Linked DNA regions of Homo sapiens: region 2 is linked to region 1. Evidence: fine-mapped expression QTL. A gene starts in region 1. The other region holds a variant in brackets. All regions are shown on one strand. Distances are from middle to middle. Region 1 holds the start of KCP (kielin cysteine rich BMP regulator). Region 2 holds the start of ATP6V1F (ATPase H+ transporting V1 subunit F).

Evidence for each region. PIP is the estimated chance that this variant, and not a neighbour inherited with it, causes the effect.
Region 2: its variant is fine-mapped to the expression of KCP in anterior cingulate cortex (GTEx, PIP 0.98).

What each region holds. Positions count from the first base shown.
Region 1 is chr7:128,904,808-128,916,395 of GRCh38, reverse strand. KCP (kielin cysteine rich BMP regulator) reads left to right here and starts at 5,687. Exons shown (of 40, transcript NM_001366122.1): 1 at 5,687-5,795; 2 at 7,828-7,970; 3 at 8,943-9,132; 4 at 9,219-9,295; 5 at 10,033-10,117. The coding sequence starts at 5,720. It also overlaps the pseudogene LOC392787. RefSeq lists an enhancer at 11,533-11,588.
Region 2 is chr7:128,860,377-128,871,964 of GRCh38, reverse strand. It overlaps ATP6V1F (ATPase H+ transporting V1 subunit F), which reads right to left and starts at 9,109. Exons shown (of 2, transcript NM_004231.4): 1 at 8,903-9,109; 2 at 6,118-6,588. The coding sequence starts at 9,060. The coding sequence ends at 6,387. It overlaps SPMIP1 (sperm microtubule inner protein 1), which reads right to left and starts at 5,635. Exons shown (of 2, transcript NM_001195150.3): 1 at 5,135-5,635; 2 at 1-3,299. The coding sequence starts at 5,555. The coding sequence ends at 3,190. It overlaps FLNC-AS1 (FLNC antisense RNA 1), which reads left to right and starts at 9,339. Exons shown (of 4, transcript NR_149055.1): 1 at 9,339-9,440. RefSeq lists silencers at 1,828-1,947, 2,008-2,527, 2,658-2,767 and enhancers at 8,816-9,305, 9,386-9,495. The variant A/G (reference allele first, on the strand shown) is at 5,049.

The sequences.
Region 1 (11,588 bases):
GGGGCCGGCGCGGTGCAGAAGAACCCAGCGCAGCCCGGGCAGAGTCAGCTCGGCCCCGCCGCCCCACCAGTGCTCAAGGGCGCAGCCACGCAGGAGCATCGCAGACAGGTGGGTCCCGGCCGCCGCTCTCTCCTCTCCGCGTCCCCGCGTCCCCGCGTCCCCGCGTCCGGAAGGTGGTGGGAGCGGTACCGGCTGTTGCCCACCCACAAGTCTAGGCCTCAACCAGGGCCCGCGCCCCTCAGGCACCTGCGGGCGACCGGATGAAGACTGGAGTAGGGCGGGGTCCGCGTCCAGCTGCGCCTGGAGACCGAGCTTCGGTGGGTGCCTACAGCAGGGCGCGCCCCGCCGGCCTGGGACCTCCCAGGCGCCCCTCACGCCCCGATCCGTTTGAGGTGCTGGCGCCCAGGGAACCCCAAGGCCCAGGCGGCGAGGTCGGCACCGCAGCTGGGGGCGCAGGCTCTGCTGCTCCCACCCCCCCACCCCCACCCCGCCATCGCCCAGAATGGGGGCTCCCAGGCGCCCTGCTGGAGGCTGGCTTGGTCCACAGAGGAGCGAGGCCCGATCCTTACTTTCGATGCACTCGCCCTCGCTCTTCCCGGGTCACCCTAACCCTTTCGGAAAAAAAGGTGGAGGTTTAAAGCGTTCATCCCCCGGGATCTTCAGGCCAATGGCAGGAATTGTGCAAGAGTTTGGGGGAAGATAGTGTCAGGTAGAGGCTCCGTCCGTCCCTGGGCTCGCGGCCGGGAATGGTAGACGCCGGCCCCCAGAGCAGCGGAGAAGGATGGGGCGCAATAGTTCCTGGGCTGGTTTCTGTAGGTCTTGTCCCAGAACTTAAGAAGGCAACAATGAAGAGGCTGAACGTGGAGGAAAAGTGAGACTAGCATGGCTGGGATTTGGAGGAAGATGGCGAGGACCAGCGCTGGCCTTGAGCGGTTGTCTCCGGACCCGGGAGGGCGGGAGCAGGTGCCCGGGAGCAGAGGCGGGAGTGGGGGACTTTCCCCAGCCTCGCGGCCCCGCTGGACACAGCAGGGCGAGGACCGGGGTGCTGCTCTAGCAGCCGAGGAGCGTCCCTGGGGGTGAGGGTGGCTCCACGGGCTGGCCCAGGGGGTGTGCCCCCGCGGAGCCAGCGGGAGGGGTGGGGGCGGAGGGGAGGGGGGAGGGGGGCGGAGGGGAAGCGGGGAGCGGGGGCAGAGGACTGGAGTGGGCCTGGGCCCCCGTGGACCCAGTCCCCAGGGCCTGAAAGTGCACCGGCTGTGTCCACAGAGAAAACTGTCAAGACCTCCCCTCCCCCTACCTCCATCCTCCCCCTACCCCGTAGCTGTCGGGCCTGGGGCTGGGGCTGAGGGGATCCAAGAGTCTAGGGAGTCACTGGGAAATCACCCCCTTTCATCTGAAGGCCCTACTTGGGGGTTTTCCCCCTGTACCCTGGTCTTCCCCCACCTTGCCTCTCGGAGGAAGCCGAAAGAAGCTTCTTTCTGGGCACCTGCTGCCCCAGAGCCTCAGCCTGTTTGGACCAGGCAAGCAGCAGGGCCTGGGGTGTGGACAGCTCACCTGGAGGGGTGGGATTTAGGATCAGGCCCAATGCAGCAAAACCTTTGTCCTCTCCCTGAGCTGGGTGTGGGTTTGCAAGGAGACATGCGACCCAGAACAACCCTGGAGGCAGCAGGGCGCCTGCCGTCTGGCCACTCTTACTAGGACTGCTGTGGCACTTCCTCCCCTAGCAGCCCCCTGGTACCAAAGCCTTGCAGCTCCTGGAGTGAGGGGACTGTCGCCTGGGACTCCACTGGGGCCCTGGGGTTGGCTGTGAGATTTTACCAGCCCGTCGGGAGCCCTTGTGCATCCCCTCCTCATATTCCAGGTCTGGGGCTCCCCCAACAAGTTTATTTCCTTTTCCCCTAGAGCCTTTCCAGTCCTCCCCATTGATCCGCCTCCTCCCCAAAGCTCTCCCAGGTTAGTCCAGCCACACTCAGCTTCCCACATTTTAGTGCTCATGCGTCCAGAGCTGACACAGCCCATCAGGCACTTGCCTTCTGCCCTCAGACTGCTTCACACAGTGTGGGGCTCTGCCTTCCTCAGCCAGGACAGGGCATATCACCTCTCATTTGCCTGGTACCCAGCACAGCTAGGCCAGTGCCCCTCAGAGCAGGTACGTGCCGTGGACTGCACACTGGACCCTGGTTCCTCCTGCCCCCAGGCTGGGCTGGCAGGCAGGGGCCAGGCTGGGCATGGGGCAGTGGCAGCCCCTCACAGAGGCTGCCCAGGGAGCTGAGGCACAGCCCATCTTGGGCCACAAGCCCTTCCTGCCCTCAGCCTTGCTACCTCTGGCCCCCAGGTGTGTCATCAGAGATCATGTGAACGCCCTGAACGCCTGCTCGGGGACCTTGTCTGTCACCATTGATGGCCCCACCAAGGTGCAGCTGGACTGTTGGGAGTGTCCTGAGGGCCACGTGGTCACTGACACTCCCATGGCCCCTGGCAACTACCTCATTGCCATCAAGTACGGTGGCCCCCAGCACATCGTGGGCAGCCCCTTCAAGGCCAAGGTCACTGGTGAGTGCCGGTTTGGGGGAGGTCCACCCAGCCTGCAGCCCAGCCCAGCCTGGAGGGCTCCGGTGGCCACGCACATCTAGGCCATAGTCTGCCCCCAGACATCATGGTCAGTTTACCAGGGCTAGAGGTGGGCCTGGCTCTACACAGTACACGTTCTGTGGAGTCGGGCATGATCATGTAAAAATGCCATTCTTCCTCTCCATCGTGGCCCCTCACTCCTTCAGCTCTGGCCTGCGCTGGCTCCTCAGGCTCTAGCACCACTTTCTTCCCTCCTGGCTTCCCATATTCCTCCGCTCCAAGAAGACACAGTCGGTATTGAGCAAGCTTCCCCTCTTGAGGCTGTCTGTAGGATGAGTTGGGTGGGTGTTCCTTTGTAAAGTGGCTCTTACCCTGTGAGTTAGCCTGAGTTCCCAGACAAAGCCTGCAAGGATGAGGGACGCAGCATCTGAGGCCCCAGCCCTAGGGTGGAGCACCAATTGGAGCTGGCAGCTCAGGGCCCTGGCTGGGAATGGGGCTGTGCTCCTAGAGTGGCCCTTGGAGGAATTTGGGGGGGAACCTCAAATGCAGGCAGTGAGTCCCACAGGGTGGCAGTGCTGGCCGAGGGTCCCCTGCCTGGGGAAGAACGGGAAGCCCTTCTGACTAGGTTTGTGCCCCCTCCACCCACCCCTCAGGTCCGAGGCTGTCCGGAGGCCACAGCCTTCACGAAACATCCACGGTTCTGGTGGAGACTGTGACCAAGTCCTCCTCAAGCCGGGGCTCCAGCTACAACTCCATCCCCAAGTTCTCCTCAGATGCCAGCAAGGTGGTGACTCGGGGCCCTGGGCTGTCCCAGGCCTTCGTGGGCCAGAAGAACTCCTTCACCGTGGACTGCAGCAAAGCAGGCAGGTGGCGGGGGGAGGGCGTCTCCCGGGGTGTGAGCAAGAAGCCGTCAGGGAGCAGGGTGTGGGTCACAGTAGGGGACTCCCTGGTGTGAGCCTGTCCCTCTGCCTCCCTCTCCAGGCACCAACATGATGATGGTGGGCGTGCACGGCCCCAAGACCCCCTGTGAGGAGGTGTACGTGAAGCACATGGGGAACCGGGTGTACAATGTCACCTACACTGTCAAGGAGAAAGGGACTACATCCTTATCGTCAAGTGGGGTGACGAAAGTGTCCCTGGAAGCCCCTTCAAAGTCAAGGTCCCTTGAGTCCCAAAAGTGCCTCCCCAGCCTCAGCCCCCACCTCCAGCCAAACACACATTACATACACACACACACACACACAAATGTGCCACACCCAGACACACACACACAGAATCAGACACTACAAACACCTGCCTTGGGGGTGAAGTGAAGGCCCAGCCTCCCCACCCCACCGCACCCCAGGGGTTGGAGGACCTTTTCTGTGTCAGGACAGTGTCCCTCCCTGGGAATGTGATATGAGGGCCGACTGGGGCCAGGCTCAGTGGCAGAGGCTAAGACACAAGGGACTGGAAGGGGACTGTGGGGCGAGGGAAGCCCTGTGCATCCTCCCAGTGTGGTTTAGAGCTGCTCACCCTGATTCTCTCTGATTCTTTCTGTAAAATGGGGATGGAGGTGCCCCCATTCTTCATAAGGGAAGTAAAAATTGCTCATACCTCTGTGCCAAGCACCATGCATTACTAATCCTTACAAACACTCCATGAGGTGGGTGCTGTTAGAGCTCCAGTCACAGTTCAGAAAAATCAGCCACCAAAAGTGAAGTGACCAGCCAGAGGCCCCAGAGCAGAAAGCAAGAGCTCCAGGATGCGCCCTGGCAACCCTGCCAGAATCTGTGCTCTGAACCGTCCCACTACCCAGCCCCTCAGAGGACTTGCTTTCCAGAGGCACCCGGTCAATGAAAGCCACCTTCCTTAAACCTGCCAGGAATAGTGCTGCCGCTTCCTTGTTCCTCTTCTGGCTGGCTGGCCCTGGCTTTCCTCTGTGACCTCAGCTCCAGGCACTGAGGCCAGGTCTTAGCGTGGCATTGCAGCCTCCCTGCCCCCTGTGGCAAAGGCTCAGGTCCACTATGGGCCCAGACTCTGGGGCAGAGAAGCTGCCGTCTCCTTACTGAAGCTTTAAGCTTGGTGGAGAGTGGGCTGGGGAGACCTCAGTCCCTGCCTGGTCTAGGGGGAGGGGTGGCTTCCGACTTCTGGTCTTTATGACAGGGAGGGAGAGCTTTGGAAGGGTTCACAGCTCCGCCCTCAATGTTCCTTTTTGCCTGTGAGCTTCGCCTGTGAGACCCAACCCTCTGCTTCCCAGCTTCAAGGAGGAGTTTCCCAGCCTGTGGGCCCACAGGGACGGCTGTCCTCACTTCCTCCCTTTGGCCCCCTCTGCCTGCTGAGCCCAGGGCCCAGCCCTGCCCCCTACCCAGGCTCACCCCACAGCCAGGCCTGAGCTCAGGAGTGGGAAATGGGGCTGAGACCAGCCAGTGAAGGGCGGCCTTGGCATTTGGGGCCAAGCCTGGGACTGCTGGGGTGGGTAGGGGTGTTGAGTGGAGTTCAGGAAAGAAACTTATAGGGGAGAGAGGAAAACACTGGTCGTGTCCATGATTTCAGAGATCAGGAGTTCTTATTATTATTATTTGTTATTTACTGAGCATTTACCATCTCTCTACCGACTCTAAATTCTTTACTTATATAATCTCACTTAATGCTCACTGCAAGTCTATAAAGTAGATGTGGTGATCCCCAGTTTACAGATAGGGAAATTGAGGCACAGAGAAGTTAGTGGTCTAAGGCCACATGGAATTGGCTGAGCAGGGATCTAAACCCAGCTCAGTCTGCTTCTTCTGTAAACTTGTGAGAGAGAGGAAAAATCGATCTGGAAACCCTAGGGCGATGGAGTAACCTAAAAGGGCAGGGAGACTCTCTAGGATCCCGAGAGGGGTGGACTTGGGTTTATTTTCTTTTCAGGGTCTCCTCCTGGATCTTAAGCGGAGACAAGGCCTACACCCCCGTTGGGCTTCCTGCGAGCTGGAGCTGCTCTCTGGGGTCAGGACCGGCCGGGCCCGGGGCGGGTGGAGGTGTGCATGGGAAAGGCGCGCGCGGTGGGGGGTTTGAGCCCTCCCTGAACAAAGCCTGGGTGGGAGCGGCCTGTGTGTCCCCACCCCGCCTTCCCCAGCGCCTGCTGAGCCGCGACGACAGACGGCGAGCCGAGCGAGGCGGAGCTAGCATGGCCGGGGTCGGGGCCGCTGCGCTGTCCCTTCTCCTGCACCTCGGGGCCCTGGCGCTGGCCGCGGGCGCGGAAGGTGAGTCCAGGTGCGGGAGGCTTGGGGTCCGGCCAGGTGCGCCCCCTCCCTCCTATCAGCCCGGCCTGAGGGGGCCGAGAGGGGCTGGGGGCTCTGCTCTTAGCCCTGCCTGAGGTTCGCGCGCCTCCCTGGCCAGCTCCGTCCTCCCCGTCGGGGGAGCGAGCAGGGTGGGGAAGACCACGGCCAAAGCAGGGGGTTCAGGAGAGGGGGGCGGTTCCTGCAGCCGGCGGCGGGAGAGAGTGCGGCTGCCCTGGCATCTGGGAGTCTGAAGTTAATTATTTGTCTTGACGAAGGAGGGGGAGAAAAGGGGCCCGCTGTGGAAGCTGACTTTGCATCTGTGTCTGGCCCTCCCCGGAGCAGGACAGGCGGGAATGGAGGGCTCGGTGCCGGCACGGGGCCAGGGGAGGCTAAGAGGGGAACCCGGGACAATTCCTTGGGGACCAGCCAAGTTTGTGCCACTCGGAGCTCTTTCTGCAGGTCTCTCCAGGCGAGGCTGGCCCTAGCTTCACCTAGGGGTCCCAGAGGATTCAGCTTCTCCCGGGCTCCCATATCCTGCCTGCCTACTTAAGCAGAACTGGAGGAGTGGCCTGGGAGGAGGGGCCCTGGGCAGCAGGATGAGGCCCCACGGGAGTCTAGATTGGGTAGAAGGTTTCAGATGCTGAGACGCCCATCGTGGCCGCCCTCTGTGTGCTTGGGAAGGACTGAGACCGGGTGCCATTCCGGGTGACAGGATCCCCAGTAGAGGGACGGAGATGGGAAAGGGCACCTGGGGTTTGAGGGCCAGTATTCGCCCAGGGTGCGGGAACTGAGTTAGAATCCCTGATATAAGCCAGAAGTAGCGGGGCTGGAAAGGTGGGCGGTGCTTGTGATCCATCCCAGCGGGACTTGCTCCTGGGAGACTTCGGCTGTGTGATTCAGAAAGGTCGAGTGGAGAGAAGGGGCACAGATGGAGGCAGGGACGCTTTGTCTTCAGCCTTCTGAATGGAGATGGTGGAGAGAGGAGAAGGGGGGGATGTATTAGGGGACAACTCAGGCAACAAAATAGGGGAGCTGAGCCCCAGCTTTCTGGCTTAAGTAACTGGGTATGTGTGATGGCATTAACCAAGCCAGGGAACTTGGGACAAAGCAAGTTCAATTTTAGCCTAGAATCCCCTCTGCCTTTGATGGTGACAGTGGGTGACATTGTTCCCCTGTCTCACAGGCCTAGTGTCTGTGAGAAACCCTTTTAAGCCACTCCAGGCCTGGCCTCACTAATGAGCTGCCATGGTGGGAAAGACCCATCCCTCTCCCTCCTCCTCTCTCTGTTCCTATTGCCTCCGCTCCAGACCCTCAACTTCCCTGCCCATCCCTGCCTGGAGGAGGGACCTATGTCTGCCTCTTCCCCTCCTGCCTTTACTTTCTGGGCTGCAGGAGAAGGATCAAAGTGAAAAGGTGAAAGTGGCCGCCCCTAACCCCAGGCCAGAGCTCAGAGGTGCCCCGTCCCTCTTTCCTGGACATAGTGTCTTCTAGAAGCAGGGACAGGCTGTCTTCACTGGATCTGGTGTGTTCAAAGTTAGCAGGGGCCTTGCCAGCACATTTCTCACACCCTTCAGAAAATGCAGCCAAGTCCCACTTTTGAAGCCCACCCCACCCAATGTGGGAGCCCCCAGGAACCCCTGTCACAAGCCTGGAAAACCGTGCTCAGGGTTGGGGGCGGGAGCAGTTGTCCTTCCCTGAGCACATTCTCCAAAAGTTGTGGCCTTTCTGACAGGTGCAGAGAGTCAGGGGATGGGGGCTGCTCATGTTCTCCCTGAAAAGACTCTCAGCCAGACCCCAGACCCCTGAAAGCAGCTCCACCTGGCGCATGTCTGTGGCCTTCCCCTGCGTTTCAGCCTGTGCTGGCTTCCCGGCCCTGGATGGTGGGTGGGCAATTGGAGAGGGCAGGGTGCACAGGATGACCCCCTTCCCCTGTGGGTCAGAAGACAGAACCCAGAAAATGTGGCCAGGCCAGCCCCTCACCCTCAGGCCCACATGGGATTCTTGTGCCCTTCAGGTGGGGCTGTCCCCAGGGAGCCCCCTGGGCAGCAGACAACTGCCCATTCCTCAGTCCTTGCTGGGAACTCCCAGGAGCAGTGGCACCCCCTGCGAGAGTGGCTGGGGCGACTGGAGGCTGCAGTGATGGAGCTCAGAGAACAGGTACCATGGAGACAGTGCTGGTTTGCATTGGGTAAGGAGGGCTTCTCATAGTGGGAGGGAGAGAAGGAGTTAGGCTTGGAGGGGGGAGCCTAAAATAGAGCTCTTATCTGAACAATTCCCTTTCTTTCTTTCTTTCTTTCTTTCTTTCTTTCTTTCTTTCTTTCTTTCTTTCTTCTTTCTTTCTTCCTTTCTTCTTTCCTTCCCTCCTTCCTTTCTTTTTTTTTCTTTCTTTTCCTTCCTTCCTTCCTTCCATCCTTCTTCTCTCTTTCTCTCTCTCTCTTTCTTTTTTTTTTTTTTGAGATGGAGTCACCATGTGTCACCCAGGCTGGAGTGCAGTGGCACAATCTCAGCTCCCTGCAACCTCTGCCTCCTGGGTTCAAGTGATTCTTACGCTTCAGCCTCCTGAGTAGTTGGGACTACAAGTGTGCACCACCATACCCGGCTAATTTTTGTATTTTTAGTAGAGATAGGATTTCACCACGTTGGCCAGGCTGGTCTCGAACTCCTGACCTTAGGTGATCTGCCCGCCTCAGCCTCTCCAAGTGCTGGGATTACAGGTGTGAGCCACCAGGCCTGGCCAGAACAATTCTTAACATTGATTCTTTCATGCAAATGAAGAACCTCCAGGCTATTTGTTTTGTCAGTTCGTGTTTCGTACTGTTCCATGTATTTGGGGAATGTTATGGAATGCATTCTATATAAGGCATCATCAAAAATATTTTGGATGGGTAAAGATGTCTTTAATTCTTGGGGCAAGGGTTGGGTCCCCATTTTGTCCAAAGGAGAGATTGGGGCCCGTGCCCCCCTGAGAATGGTGATCGTTTGAGCTGGATGCTGACCGAGGGGGACCCATCTCTGCTCTGGAATTGGCGAACTTCTTTCTCATCCTGCCTCATTTTCACACCCCTCATCTCTACTGGAGATGGTGGGGGAAGCTGAGCCAGTGCCTGCTATTCCATCTCCTTCCTCCAGAATAAGGACCTGCAGACGAGGGTGAGGCAGCTGGAGTCCTGTGAGTGCCACCCTGCATCTCCCCAGTGCTGGGGGCTGGGGCGTGCCTGGCCCGAGGGGGCACGCTGGGAGCCTGACGCCTGCACAGCCTGCGTCTGCCAGGATGGGGCCGCTCACTGTGGCCCCCAAGCACACCTGCCCCATTGCAGGGGTAAGTGCCACCCTATCCGCCCACTGGGGCCACCTAAAGACCTGCAGATGGCATGGGGTGCTTGAGTGACACTGCTGTCTCCTTAGGCTGCAGCCAAAATGGCCAGACCTACGGCAACGGGGAGACCTTCTCCCCAGATGCCTGCACCACCTGCCGCTGTCTGGTAAGCTCCCAGGACCTACCTGGATATCCCTCACCTGTCTGCCTCTCTCCAGCTACCTGTCACTGCAGCGTGGCACTCAAGATGTCGCATAATGGGCTCTGCCTGCCACTCCCACACCTTGCCACGGTGGCTTTCAGTTGATTCCGAGTAGGAAAAGGAGCTCAATGCCCACGGACACTGGGGGGTCCCCAAGCCACTCAATTCAGACCTGGCCAACAGTGGCATGGAGGGCAGAGAATGTATTAGGTTGGTGCAAAAGTAATTGCGGTTTTTGACATGACTTTTAATGGCAAAAACCGCAATTACTTTTGCACCAACTTAATAGTTGCTTGTCCTCCTATATCACCTCCCACTCTTCCACTGCCCATCTTCTACTTCGGAACCCCCTGGCCTGCCTATTCTCCCTCACCAGTTGCCACATCCACCTTCCCCCAGTCTTTCCTTCCTCCTTCCTCCCTGAGAAAGTCTTCGGTCTTCTTCCTAGGATCTCCCCTCTCTGGGGAATGTGCTGGCACCTGGAAGAGATGGTTTCCTAGGGTTAAGAGCATCAGGAGACGATGGGAGTGGGGGCGGGATGTCTCTTTTCTGCCTTTACACAGAGGGTAGCCCACATCCACAGAGCCAACTCATCCTCTTGCCCCTATGACATGTCCCAGCCTGGGCTGAGGTTTTACTTCCAGAGGCCCTGCCCTCCAGGAATCTGATGTCTGTGCAGCCACCTCAGTCTGCTCCCACAGGAAGGTACCATCACTTGCAACCAGAAGCCATGCCCAAGAGGACCCTGCCCTGAGCCAGGAGCATGCTGCCCGCACTGTAAGCCAGGTCAGCCTCCTGCCAGTCTCAGCCCCACCTCCTGCTTGCCTTCTCTGGCCCACAGACACAGCCTGCCACCTCAGTGAGTCTGGGACATGCCCAGGGGTGCCTACCCACTCACTCTGACAGTGGCCAGGGGAGTGCAGAACCCATGCACAAATCAGCAAATACTGGCTCTGGCCTGGGACTGAGCCAGAGACCATAGGGAAACAGGCACAAAATCTTTTTCCTGCCCTCAGGGAGCCTCCAATCTAGTTGAGAAGATAAGCTCATAGCCAAGCTACCACAAGATTGAAGACCCAATGAGCAGATTAAGAGGAGGTGTAGAAGGCAGTGCAGTGTGTATTTTGCCAGAGGAGGGCACAGGAGGCAGGGGAAGCCCGTCGAGGCTGGGCAGTCAGGGGGCCTTTACAGACAATGGGTCCTTTGAGCTGGGTCTTCATGGGAAAGTGGGGTTCCACCTGAAGGAGAGGGAGTACGTGAGGTTCCTCTGGGCACAAGGACAGGGTGGAGAGAGGTGGGTTGCAGGAAGTCCATGTGGGAAGGCCAGTGGGAACAGGCTGCTGTAAGCCTTGCAATTAGGACTTTTTTCTATGGGCAGTGGGGGGTATTGAAGGCTGAAGCAGCGTGTGGCATGGTCAAGGGGGCGCTTGAGGAATATTCACCTGGTGAGGGCTAGATGCAGACAGAGGCGTCGGGGCTGTGACAGCAGTTGTCTAGGCATGGAGCCAGGGATGGCAGTGGGCTGGAGAAAGGGGGATGTTTCTAAAGGACGGGCAGGAGCCGGTGACTGGCTGGGTCCCCTGGAATAGTGGAGGCCGAGCTTGGGACACTAGGATAGCAGTGGTGCTGGGGACATGAAGAGAGCTGGGAGGAAGAGGAGGTCATGGCTATGCAGGGGGGTGTTACTGGCTCATAAGGTGATAGTGTTGCCAGATTTAGCAAATGAAAGTCTAGAATGCTTTGTTAAATCTTAATTTCAATAAACGGCATGTAAGTTTTTAGTATAGGTATATCCTATGCAATATTTAGGACATTCTTATACTAAAATTGACGTCTTATTCTTCTGAAGTTCAAATTTTACTGGGCATCCTATATTTCATCTGGAAGCCCCTCCGAGAGAGGAGTCTCAGTTGGTAGTAAGAAAGGTGGGACAAGGACTCAGACCAGTTGGGTCTGGAAATGCAGCCTGGAGTGCTGGCTGGAGATGAGGACTAAAATCTTGGGGGTTGATGGATCTCAAAGAAAAGACACACAAAGAAAAGACCCCTGACCCCCGCTCCCCCAACACACACACACACACTCTTCAGGGCACGTGGTGCCTCAGGGCCACTGCTAGCCTATATGATGTCTTTGGTGAAATTTTAAAAGGCACCCTTTCCTCAAGACACTACTTCCATCTGTTGTAAAATAATGGAACCATGCTGATGATGTGCCTATCGGACACTTTACTGCCATCTGCTGGAAAGGGGTAGTAAAT
Region 2 (11,588 bases), 44 kb after region 1:
AATTATTTTCTGATGGACAGAGAAGTTTTTACAAGTATTTTACATCTTGAGAAGACAGGGATATCAATTATAACATTATTACCAGAGAAATAAATTTTCTAGTAAGACAACAGATGAGAATTACAGAAGTGGGAGGTTGGAGATTGTTTTTGCAGTTTGTGGCAATTATTTCTAAAGGCCCAGGAGTCTCCTTTGTTTAAAAAACTCTTTGAAAGATGCGTTTTCACAGAGAGTGCACCCATTTGGTTACTGTTAGGAATATTCACACGTCTGTATATTGCACAAGAGAACAAGATGCAGTATTCTTGGGAAAGTTCTCAATTTCAGACCTTATGAAATCCCTTTTAACTGGTTTTTATGGATGCAGAACAGCTCTCCTTCCTCCACAGCTGCAGGGGAGCGGCAACACATCATCTCTTTTTTTAGATTTCTTTTGTTAATTATGAACACTTGCAGTTTTTAGGCCAGGCTCTGGCCTAAAATTTCATCTTGAATTTCCTTTGATTTTGCTGTCAGAAACAAAGAAAAGGCTAAGGAAGGTTTTTCTGAATAAGAGTAAAAAGTAAGACGCCCAGAGCGGGTTTCTTCTCTGGGCCTGATGGGCACACCAGGGCAAAGTGGGAGTGGCCGGTGCTGAGGAACCCAGGCACCCAGCACCGTGACCCTTCTCACTCCCAGGCCTCCTGTGGTGGTCTTGAGGAAGGGGCTGTGCAGGTCCCTCTGGAGTGGTCTGCCTTGGCTGGGAGGATGAGAAAGATGGGGCAGGCTGTTGGCAGGCACACCTGACAGGTGCATGGCTGGCTGATTGATGAACTGTGACAGCCTGAGGTTCAGACAGCGCCCTCAGGGCACCCCTAGCCATGCACTGGGACTCCCTAAACTTCCTGGCTCTAGTCTAGGTGAACTGTGCATGAGGGGCTGGGACATGAGCTCCCAATACTGGTCTTTCTTCCTCAGGCTCCTTACAAGAGCTCAACCCCACTACCAGGAGGAGTTTTGGGGTGCCAGGTAGCTCAGAGTGCAAGGTGAAAAGGTCAAGGGTCTCAGGTTGGGGATGGCAGGGGTGGGTCTGCCTGGGAGGAGGCTGCTGGGGTGAGGAGGAGGCTCTTCAGTGAAGCACCTTCCACACTACATAAAATGGCTTTAACAAATTCAGGAATCAGGCAAAGGCTGGCCCCTGGGGTCTGCAGGTTCCCTCTCAAACCTGGGCCCAAAGTGCTTTTCCTTTCCAGGACCTGGCCCAGAGGGAAGAGAGGAGTGAGGCAGAGCCTGAGACCCAGAAAAGAAAGCTCACTCCCGGGACCCCTGGGCCGGGGGACCTGCCCTCCCAAAACCTGCCTTCCCAAGATGCCCTTGAAGGGCTGGGCTCGGACCCGCACCTGGGCCAGGAGAGAGCAGAACTTCAAAGACCACCAAGGATGGACACCCCTGAGTCTGAGAGGAGGACCCTCAGGATCAGAAAGCGGAGACCCCTCAGCGTAAGAGAGCCGAGGCCTCCTGGGGCGAGATCAAAGATGCTCCTCAGAGTCAGAAGGTGAAGACACACGGGGGCCAGAGCCCAAGGGCTCCTCAGGGTCAGAGGGAGGAGTCGAAGAGAATTTAGTCCTAAGTGCCAGGGAAAGGCGAGTCCCCAGAGTCCAGGGAAGAAGATGCTGCGGTCTTGGGAAGGCAATATCTCACAAGCCTGGGAGGTGGCTCCCGGAGAGGCCACTGTGCAGCCCCCAGAGGAAGGCGACCCCCATAGCCATCCGAGGGACTCCTGCGGGTCCCTGAAAGCACAGACTCCAAAGCCTGTGGGCAGGGAGAGCCCAAACCTCCGGAGAAGGACTACCACGCTGACGCAGAGCATGATCAAAGGCGAGCCACAAAGGTCGGCACCGGCGGTGGCAAAGCTGGGGGCCGCCCGGGAGGGGGCGTGGGCTGCGCTTACCCGCCCGAAGCCCCCGGCCCGGCGGCGGCTCCCAGGTCGCGGAGCCGGAGCCGAGATGCCAGCGACCCTGCGCGCCGAGGTATCCGGGCAGCAGGGGCTCCTCGGGGCTCTCCGGGGCCCCCAGGCCTGGAGCGCGATCCGCACGGGCTGCAGGGCCCTGGAGTGGGCCCCGCACCGGGGGAGCAGGAGGTGGGCCAGGCTTGGCTTCCGGGTGCCCTCCGGGGTCGGGTGGGGCGGCCCTGAGCGTCCCAAGGCCTTGAAGGCCGCGTGGCCGGCGCCCCTCAGCACCGCCAAGGCGCCTGCGGGCTTAAGCGCGGCGCAGCAGGTGACGGCTCTGCAGCGGCTGCTGGAGCTGCACAGCGCGGCCAGGCGGCAGCGCCGCCGGCGGGACCGTGAGCAGCAGCGGCTCCGGGTGTGTCCCCACGCCGGGATCGGGGCCTGCCTGGAGCGGGCGGGGCACCGAGGGGCGGCCGGACGCTGACTGCCGCCTCTGCAGGTCCTGGAACGCCTCCACATCGCCAGGAACCGCCACTGCCGGGTTCACCCCGTGGGGCTCCCGCCCAGTCCGGCTCAACTCCCGCCACAGGCAAGACCCCTAGAAGGCGGTGGGGCCACAAGGAGCCTGCGCGGGGCAGGGGCCGAGCTTAGCGCGCCCGGGTCCCTTTGAAGTGAGCGCACTGCACTCTGGCAGTGACTCGGCGGGGCGCGAGGGGCAGGTGTGCCAGGTGCTGCCCCGCCCGCCCCACTGAGCCGCGGACGCTCAGCGCTCCGCACCGCCAGGAGGACGCGGCTGGGCGGCGGCGCGCCCTGCGGGAGCAGCTGGAGCAAATGCATCGGGAGAGGACGGAGCGGCTGCGGGCCCTCGGGGCCAGGTGAGGGGCGGGCAAGGAGGGGTGTGGCGGTGGCAGGAGGCCCCTTTCCCTGGCCTCCGAAATGACAAGCCGCTCTCTCCCCAGGAACACCCAGAACTTCCTGGAACTACTGTGTTCCCCTGGTGCTGAGGATCCCGTGCCTGCGAAGTAGTGCTCGCCCTTCCCAGCACCCTCTGGTCATTGCTGAGTCCTCAAAGGGATGATTAAAGTGATGAGGGTTACGGAAAAAGCAAGAGGGCAACTTGCAGGTCTGATAGTTTCAGAAAGGCCTGAATGCAACCTCAGGGACAGGGAGAGCAGAGGGGCACAGACACACACAGCAGCTTTGCCCCACCAGGAGGCCTGTTATTTCTTCTTCCCTCCCCTAAGCCCACACCTGGCCCACGGTCAGAGGGCCAGGTCTCGGGGATCAAGCAGTGCGAAGGCCCCGTTCTTGCGGAAGAATGACTCAATGCGGCACATCTTGCAGGAGACCAGTTCTTGCTTCACTGGGGGGCCTGGGAAAAGATGTCAGAGGCCAAGCATGGGTTCCTGAGGGAGGGACACGCAGAGCATGGGAGCCCTGTCTGTCTGCACAGCCCTAGGAATCCGTCAGTGGAGTAGCCACTTTGTGGGAAGAAATAGAAAGTGCTTTGGAGGAATGGGAGCTATGGGCAAATACTGGGAGCTGGCTGGATGCCAGGATACAGCAGCCATCTGCCATCATTACCCTAGCTTCAGGATCCTCTACCTGCAGGGAGGGGGGCCACCCTAGCCTGCTTGTCACAGGGACAGACTGTGGAGAGATGAGATTTCCTTCGGCCTCCTGCTCCCCGCTTCTAGGGCTCGCCTCCTGCTTTTGTTAGAAAGTTATTTCCCTGACTTCCCCTTTAGGGGCCTGGGGGAAAGGGATGTTTGGGGGCAAAATCTCAACTGAGTCAATCCCCAACCATCCACCTTTTCTGCAAGACACTCAAGCAGCTGGAGAAGGGTACAGGGCTGAGGAGTCTCACTTGACATTCATGAGCACAGACAGCAATGGGACGTGCAGCAACATCGCCCAGCAGCCCTGCCTGGCACATGCCTGTTCCACACCTTTCCTCTTCATCTCTAGTTACTCCACTGCCTCAGCTCAGCTCCCTCCCCGCTGATGGCCTTGACTCAACCTCACAGAAAAAAGACTCAGCCGAGATGGACAGGCTTCCTGCCAATGACATCCCCTACCCGCTCTGGCTCAGCCCTCCTGCCCCCACTCCCATCAGATTCCAGCAACTTGAGCTCCCTAGGAGATCTCATGGATTTAAATAGCACCTATAGGCCAGCCGGTGGCTCATGCCTGTAATCCCAGAACTTTGGGAGGCCGAGACAGGCAGATTACGAGGTCAGCAGTTCGAGACCAGCCTGGCCAATATGGTGAAACCCTGTCTCTACTAAAAAAACAAAAATTAGCTGGGCGTGGTGACACACGCCTGCAGTCCCAGCTACTCGGGAGGCTGAGGCAGAAGAATCTCTTGAACCTGGGAGGCAGAGGTTGCAGTGAGCCAAGATCGTGCCACTGCATTCCAGCCTGGGTGACAGAGTCAGACTGTTTCAAAAAGAAAAAGAAAAAAAAAAAGCACCTATATTCCAATGACCTCCGAATTTGCATCTTCAGCTCTGACTTCAATCCAGACTTATAGACACAGCCACCCTACAGACACTTCAAGCATAACATAGCCAAACACACATGGCTAAATAGGACCTGTTCATGCACGCTCCAGCCCTGACCTCTCCCAGTCTTCCCTGTCACTGCAGCTTTAGCTAAACAAACACCTGGGTGATTGATCTCTCTTCCCCTTATTCTCACATTCTATCCATGGGTGAGTTCCACCGAGTCTTCCCCCAAAACATCCTGAATTGATTTCAGCTCTATTGCTGATCCCTCAGGCCACTACCACAGGATAACCAAACAGATGCCCAACTCATGTGCCAGATTCTACCATTTCCCCTGAAAAAGCCACTGCCTACATACAGGTCAGGGTGACTTTTTAAAAGGTTCACCAGTGTCACTCTTGAAATCTGCTTAGAACCCTCCATCAGCTTCCCTGCACAACAAATAAAATCCAAACCCATCCTTATCATCTGGCTCTCAGCCTCGGGTCCTCAGAAAGGCCTTTCCTGACAATCCAATAAATAGCAGCACGTGGCCGCTGCCTCCCTGCCCACCGCCACTCCCTAGTTCTGTGGAACGTGTCGACACTTCTTGGCCATCTCCTTGCTCTGTTTAT[A/G]GTCTGGACCCTTCACCAGGATGCCCACTCCCTAGCACATGGCTAGTGCTCTGTTTTTGAGGTGATTTCCAAGAGGTTGGGCTCACCCAGCTGCCAGCCATACGTGAAGCTGGTGGTGATGGGGAAGAGGTATCGCGTCTCTGGCATGTCCAGTTTTCGAGTGTTGAGGTAGCGGTACCGCCCCTGGAAGTCGTGGGAGATGCCTTCATACAGCAGGGCTCGGGTGATAGGTGGTACCGGGTACATTTCCGACTGAAAAGGCGCCTCTGGGACAGGGCTGGGCACCTTGGAAGGGGCTGACTTGGGGGCGGGTGGGGGTGAGAGTGGGGCTTTGGGGTGCAGGGTGGGCAGTTTGAGGGGCAGGCGGGCTGCAGCCTTAGCCTTCTGCTTGGCCTTCACCATCGACCCATACTTGCGGTACCATTCACAGCGCAACATCTTTTCCCTCAGATATTCCTCCTTCCAGAAGTTCTGCCGTAACGCGTCTATGTTGAGCTGCCGTGACATGGTGGCCAGGGAAGGAGTGGCACCAGGGTGGCCACAGCTGAGGGGTGAGCACAGCAAGCAGAGTGCTTCTGACGGCGAGTGGCTGCCCAGGCACAGTCACCTGGCAACCATGCCTCACCTCACACAGGGCCAGGGTTCTACTTGCCATGCCCCCAGCAGACCCCATGAGCCTGGCTTCCTGAGGCAGCCTGAGGCCAGGGCCCACTGGTTAAGAGCCCTGCTCCCCCCAAAACTCCCGCAGGGCCCTCGCGGGATCTGGCATCACAGACTCCCAGGTTTCGTGTGCTTTCTGCTTCTGTCCTTTGGATCTGGCCCCCTTCCCAGCCCAATGCCGAGCAAGGTGGGGGAAGCAGGAGCTGGGCTCAAGCCTCCTCCCATTCCTCCCCAGACCAGAGCTGGTCTTCTCTGATCCAAGGACCAGTCCTTGAGTTCTGCCTCCCGGCACAATCCTCCTGGGCCACCTCTTCTATGCCTGTCTTTGGCAGCACCTTTTCCATCCTTGCCAACCGAATCTGCCCCATGGCCTCACCCCACACATGTCCTTTCCAGCACCCAACCCATCTGGAGAGAAGCAAGAATATGACTTTAATTTAACATCAACAATGACACTGTGTAACAGCACAGGGAAGAGGTAGTGGAGGGAGATGGTCAGGCTTCCTGTTCCTTAACCAGCAGAGCCCCAGCAACCTAGAAGCGCCTCACCTAGCCTCTTAATGGAGTGGGAAGGAGCAGGGAATTGGAAATCAGAGGCTCAAAAAGTAAAGAAGGCTGATGGCAAGCCTGGGGAGAGGCCTGGAAACGAGGGAAGGGCTGAGGGCTATGAGGAGTCCCCTAGCGCAGGTCTTCGGCAGTGAACATGCCCCTGGCCCTGCGCAGGATGGAGTCCTTGGCGGCGTCATATGGGTGCTCCTTGGAGGGGATCTCCAGGACAGCGGGGATGGACTGCTGGTGGGCGTCCAGGGCATGCCGCACCATCTCTGCGATGTACTGGTTGATGAGGATGATGCCAATGTCATCCCGGTTTAGAAATTGCCTGTGGGGAGAGATGAGAAGGGAGTCCAGGACAGCTCTGGGGGCTGCCGTCTCTCCTACCCAGGCAGCCCTCTCCGAGTTGTTGGGCTGGGCTGTGGAGGGGAATGAGCATGACCCAGAGGGCACAGAGGACAAGGGGAAAGGCTGCCACGCTCAACCCTCTGTCAACCCTACCTAGAATCAATTTCATCCCAAAGCGGAGGGTCACGCTGATTAGGGTTGGCTTCTACAACACTGCCCGGAAGGCTTCCAAGTGAACTGGTAATGAAGATTGATTAGGGTGCACACTGGTGTATTCAATATGCAGTGATGTGTCAGAAAGGGGAAGGATAAGATTATATGTATGCAGATCCCTTTTTATGTGCAGATACTGAAGGCCAGCTGTGATGGCTCACGCCTGTAATCCCAGCACTTTGGGAGGCCGAGGCAGGTGGATTGCTTGAACCCAGGAGTTTGAGACCAGAATGGGCCACATAGTGAGACCCCCATCTCCCTCTCTCTCTCTCTCTCTCTCTATCTATATATACACACACAAAAAAATGGCTGGATGTGGCGGATCTATCTATCTATCTATATATATACACACAAAAAAAAAATGGCTGGATGTGGCGGCATGTGCCAGCTACTTGGGAAGCTGTAGTCCTAGCTATTTAGGAAGCTGAGGTGGGAGAATCACTTGAGCCTGGGAAGTCGAGGCCGCAGTGAGCTGCGATCACGCCACTGCAATCCAGCCTGGGTGACAGGAGTGAGACCCTGTCTCAGAAAAAAAAAAAAAAAAAGACACATTAACTTTTAAAAAGAAAACAAATTATTTAAAAATAGGGCTGATGAGACCACTGAAGGCCTCAAGGTCTATCCTGATGAGGGTGGTGGAGGGGTCAGAGGGAAAGTTTGGCATGAACTAAGATCACAAGCTAGGAAGAGGACACCTTGATGAAGGAATCACACTTTCTGCACAAAAAGAACCTGGCCTTGTGCTCCTTCTCTCCTGTGGTCACCCACCCATTCATTTGTTTATTTTATTTTTATTTTTTTGAGACAGGGTCTCCCTCTGTCACCCAGGCTGGAGTGCAGTGGTGGATCTCGGCTCACTGCAGTCTCCACCTCCCAGGTTCAAACAATTCTCCTTCCTCAGCCTCCTGATTTCTTGGGATTACAGGCACCCGCCACCACGCCTGGCTAATTTTTGTATTTTTAGTAGAAATGGGGTTTCACCATATTGGTCAGGCTAGTCTCAAACTCCCGAGCTCAGGTGATCCACCCGCCTCGGCCTCCAAAACTGTTGGGATTACAGGCGTGAGCCACTGCACCCAGACTCATTCGTTTATTTACTGATTAAAAATTACTTACTGAGCACCCACCCCCTGCCAGTCACTGGGTTAGATTTGATCTCTGAGGTCCCTTTTGGTTGGAAACATAAAAAATTCTTGAAGTAAAATTTGTCCTTCTCCCATGATAACTTGGGTCACTTTACCAGACAGCTTAGAGAATGGCAGATAACAGCCTCCCAGGTCAGGGACTACCTAATACACCAGGCAGCAGGAACCAGTCTCAGCCAGCAGCCCTGGGCTGGACTGTTTGGGGGAAACAGGTGAGTGGTTTATTCCTGAGACTTGGTACAGGGGCCCTGGAGAAGGGGTGAGGAATAAAATAGGAGGCTGGTATCCTTAATTCCAGTCACCAGGACCCCTGGTGGATTAAAAGCATGCCTGCACCCACACTCTGACCTAAGGCAGGCAGTGAGGGCTTGAGTGCAAGGTCTTAGCAGAAGGCTCTCACAGTCCCGACATTTCTGCCTACTGTGCTCAAGACTACAAGGAAATTCCGAGGCCGCCTGAGGAGACCTGCCAAGAGTGTGTACCTGGCTTACCGGAGGCAGAAAGGGTTGAGATTGGGTTCAAATTCTAGCTCTGCCTCTGCCGACTCGTAACTTTAGTGTGTGCCTTACCCTCTCCGAGCTTTAGTTTTCTCACCTGTGAGTAGGACAAAAATCATCCCTGCCTTACGGGACGATGGTGAGCCTCTAAAGGAGGAGAAAGCAGAACAAAGTCCAAGCCCACTGTCTAGGCTGTCACGAGCTCTGTTCCCCTTCTTTCATGACACACGATCATGTGAGGTGGGGGGGCTCGTGGACCTGATACAGCTTCTGTCCCACCGAGCCCCAAACGGGGACTTGGGGCGCGGAGGCCTCCGCTCCGGAAGGGCGGAAGGACTTTCAGGATCGTCCCCTCACCCCCGTCCGGGCAGCCTCCAGCCTCGCCCCGCACTCCACCGAGCAGCAGAAGGGCCCGTTCAGGCCTCGCGCGGTACCGTACCGGAAAGTGTCTTCGATCTCATTGATGGTTGTATCCTTCTCCACCACCAGGAAATTGGGATGGCGGTTCTTGTTAAGCTCCCCTATGCCGCCCAGCAGGAAACCAGTCACCGTGTCCTCGTCTCCGATCACTGCGATGAGCTTACCCCTCCCCGCCATCCCTGCAGCCGGGCAGAGCTCACCCTAGAGCACCAGAAGCCACTGAAACCCCGCCTCCGCCGTACGGCGCCCCGTCGGCCTCAACCCCCACCCTTCGAGCATGCGCAGTCCTCCCAGCCGCATTCCGGGACATGCGCATTAACAGCAACACGGCCTCCATGTGAATACGCCTGCGCCGTAAAGACAGGCCCGAACCAGGGGACTACGATTCCCAGAAGACCGCGCGGCACCACGTCCTTCGCGGGCATTCATTCGTTCATTCACTCGTTCCTTGGTTCATTCGTTCAACAAGCGCTTTGGACCTGACGCTGTTAGACGCCGAGACCCCAGAGAAGAGACGCAGTTACTCATCTCAAGGGCAGGGTCTGGGTCTTTATCGTGTATGTATGTGTGTAACTATGACACATAGTTAACAAGTAACACACGTTTGTTCAGTTAAAGGAATGCAAAAGTTAATGATGATACTGCCTAGTGAGGTGGAAAGTCAAGGGAACAGGCGACTACAAAGCTGTGTGTTAATGGTTAGAATGTGAAAAGTATATGGAAGCACACATCCATGGTAACTAACCCATGGAGAGAGGGGGCGTCCAAAGAACCCTTCCCCAAGAAGCTTGCTTCAGATCTAAGCTGAGACCTGAAGGACCTGCAGGATGAAGGGGATAGAAGTGAGGACAAGACGGTGTTCTAGGCAGAGGAACAGCATGTGCAAAGGCGTACTGACTAGAGAGCGTAGGGCCTTCAAGGAAAGTTAAATAATTGGTAAGGCCAGGCATGGTGGCTCACGCCACACCTGTAATCCCAGCACTTTGGGAGGCTGAGGCAGGTGGATCACCTGAGGTCAGGAGTTTGAGACCAGCCTGGCCAACATGGCGAAAACCCGTCTCTACTAAAAACACAAAAAATTAGCCGGGCGTGGTTGTGGGCGCCTGTAGTCCCAGCTACTCGAGAGGCTGAGGCAGGAGAATTGCTTCAACCCGGGAAGCGGAGGTTGCAGTGAGCCGAGATTGTGCCATTGCACTCCAGCCTGGGTGACAGAGCGAGACTCTGTCTCAAAAAAAAAAAAAAAAAAAAAAAAAAAAAATTAGCCAGGCGTGGTGGTGCACACTTATAGTTCCAGGTACTCGAGAAGCTGAGGCAGCAGGGCTTACTCAGGAGTTCAAGGTTACAGTGAGCTATGATCACGGCACTGCACTTAAACCTGAGCAGCAGAGCGAGACCCTGTCTAAAAAAAAAAAAAAAGGATCTGCAGGCTGGGCGCGGTGGCTCACGCCTGTAATCCCAGCACTTTGGGAGGCTGAGGCGGGTAGATCACCTGAAGTCAGGAGTTTGAGACCAGTCTGGCCAACATGGTGAAATCCCATCTCCACTAAAAATACAAAAAAAATTAGCCCAGTGAGGTGGTGTGTGCCTGTAGTCCCAGCTACTCGGGAGGCTGAGGCAGGACAATTGCTTGAACCCGGGCAAGGGAGGTTGCAGTGAGCTGAGATGGCGCCACTGCACTCCAGCCTAGGTGACAGAGTGAGACTCTGTCTAAAAAAAAAAAAAAAAAAAAAAAAAGATCTGGAAGTTATCCTGAGGACAGTTATCCTGAAGCTGCTGAGGGATTTCAAGTAAGAGAGTGCTATCGCCAAACTTACGTTTTAGAGCTGTCACTCACTGTTGACTGTGCTGTGTGCAGAGGCGAAACTGAGGGAGGAGAAACCAAATTGGGAGGCCACTGTGAGAGATAATGGTGGCCAGGACTCAGGTGGTGATAATGGGAAACGCAGAGAAGTAGGTAGAGCCGAGAGATATTTAGATATTTAGGACAAAACTGGTTTCAGAGTGGATGTGTTTGGGGAGTGAGGTAGAGAGAGAGACCTGGGTGATTTCCAGGTTTCTGGCCTGTGCAGCACATGGATGGGAGTAACATTGCCAAGAAAGTGACCTCTGTAAGATGAGCAGGCTGAAGGGGAAGGAGCCACTCTTTCCTCCTCCCTTTTAACAAATCAGCACTCCCGGTGTCTGGCATGGGGTTTGTGAGTTTGGAGTGCTTGAGACGTGCCCGTGGTCTGGTCTAGCGATTGTATGTGTGATAAGCTTGGGATTCGGGCACACCTGGGTTTCAATCTGTGCCCCACTACTTAAAGGTACGGTTTCAGACTCATCACTGAAATTCCCAGGGCCTTGGTTTCTTCAGATGGTAGTAGCCCCACCTCATAGGGCTGTTATGAGGATTAATGAGGAAGGGCCTGTAAGGCTCAGCACCCAGGGCCACACTGTGGCTGGCTGGAAGCAGGCAGGCTGGAGGTCTGTGAGCTTATCAGCCACACACAGGTGGAGGCAGCCGAAGCTGAGGGGGAAATTAGCACATCTAGGGGTGAGGGTGAGGGTGAGGGGGGCAGAGAGTGAGGATGGGTGTGTGGGAGGGTGTGAGGGAAGAGGGAGGAAGCACAGAGCCTGGTGAGAGAGGTGGGGAGGTCAGGGATTAGGAGTTGGGGACTCGTGGGTTTTTCTGCCAAGCCCACCACCATGTGCTGAAATGCCCA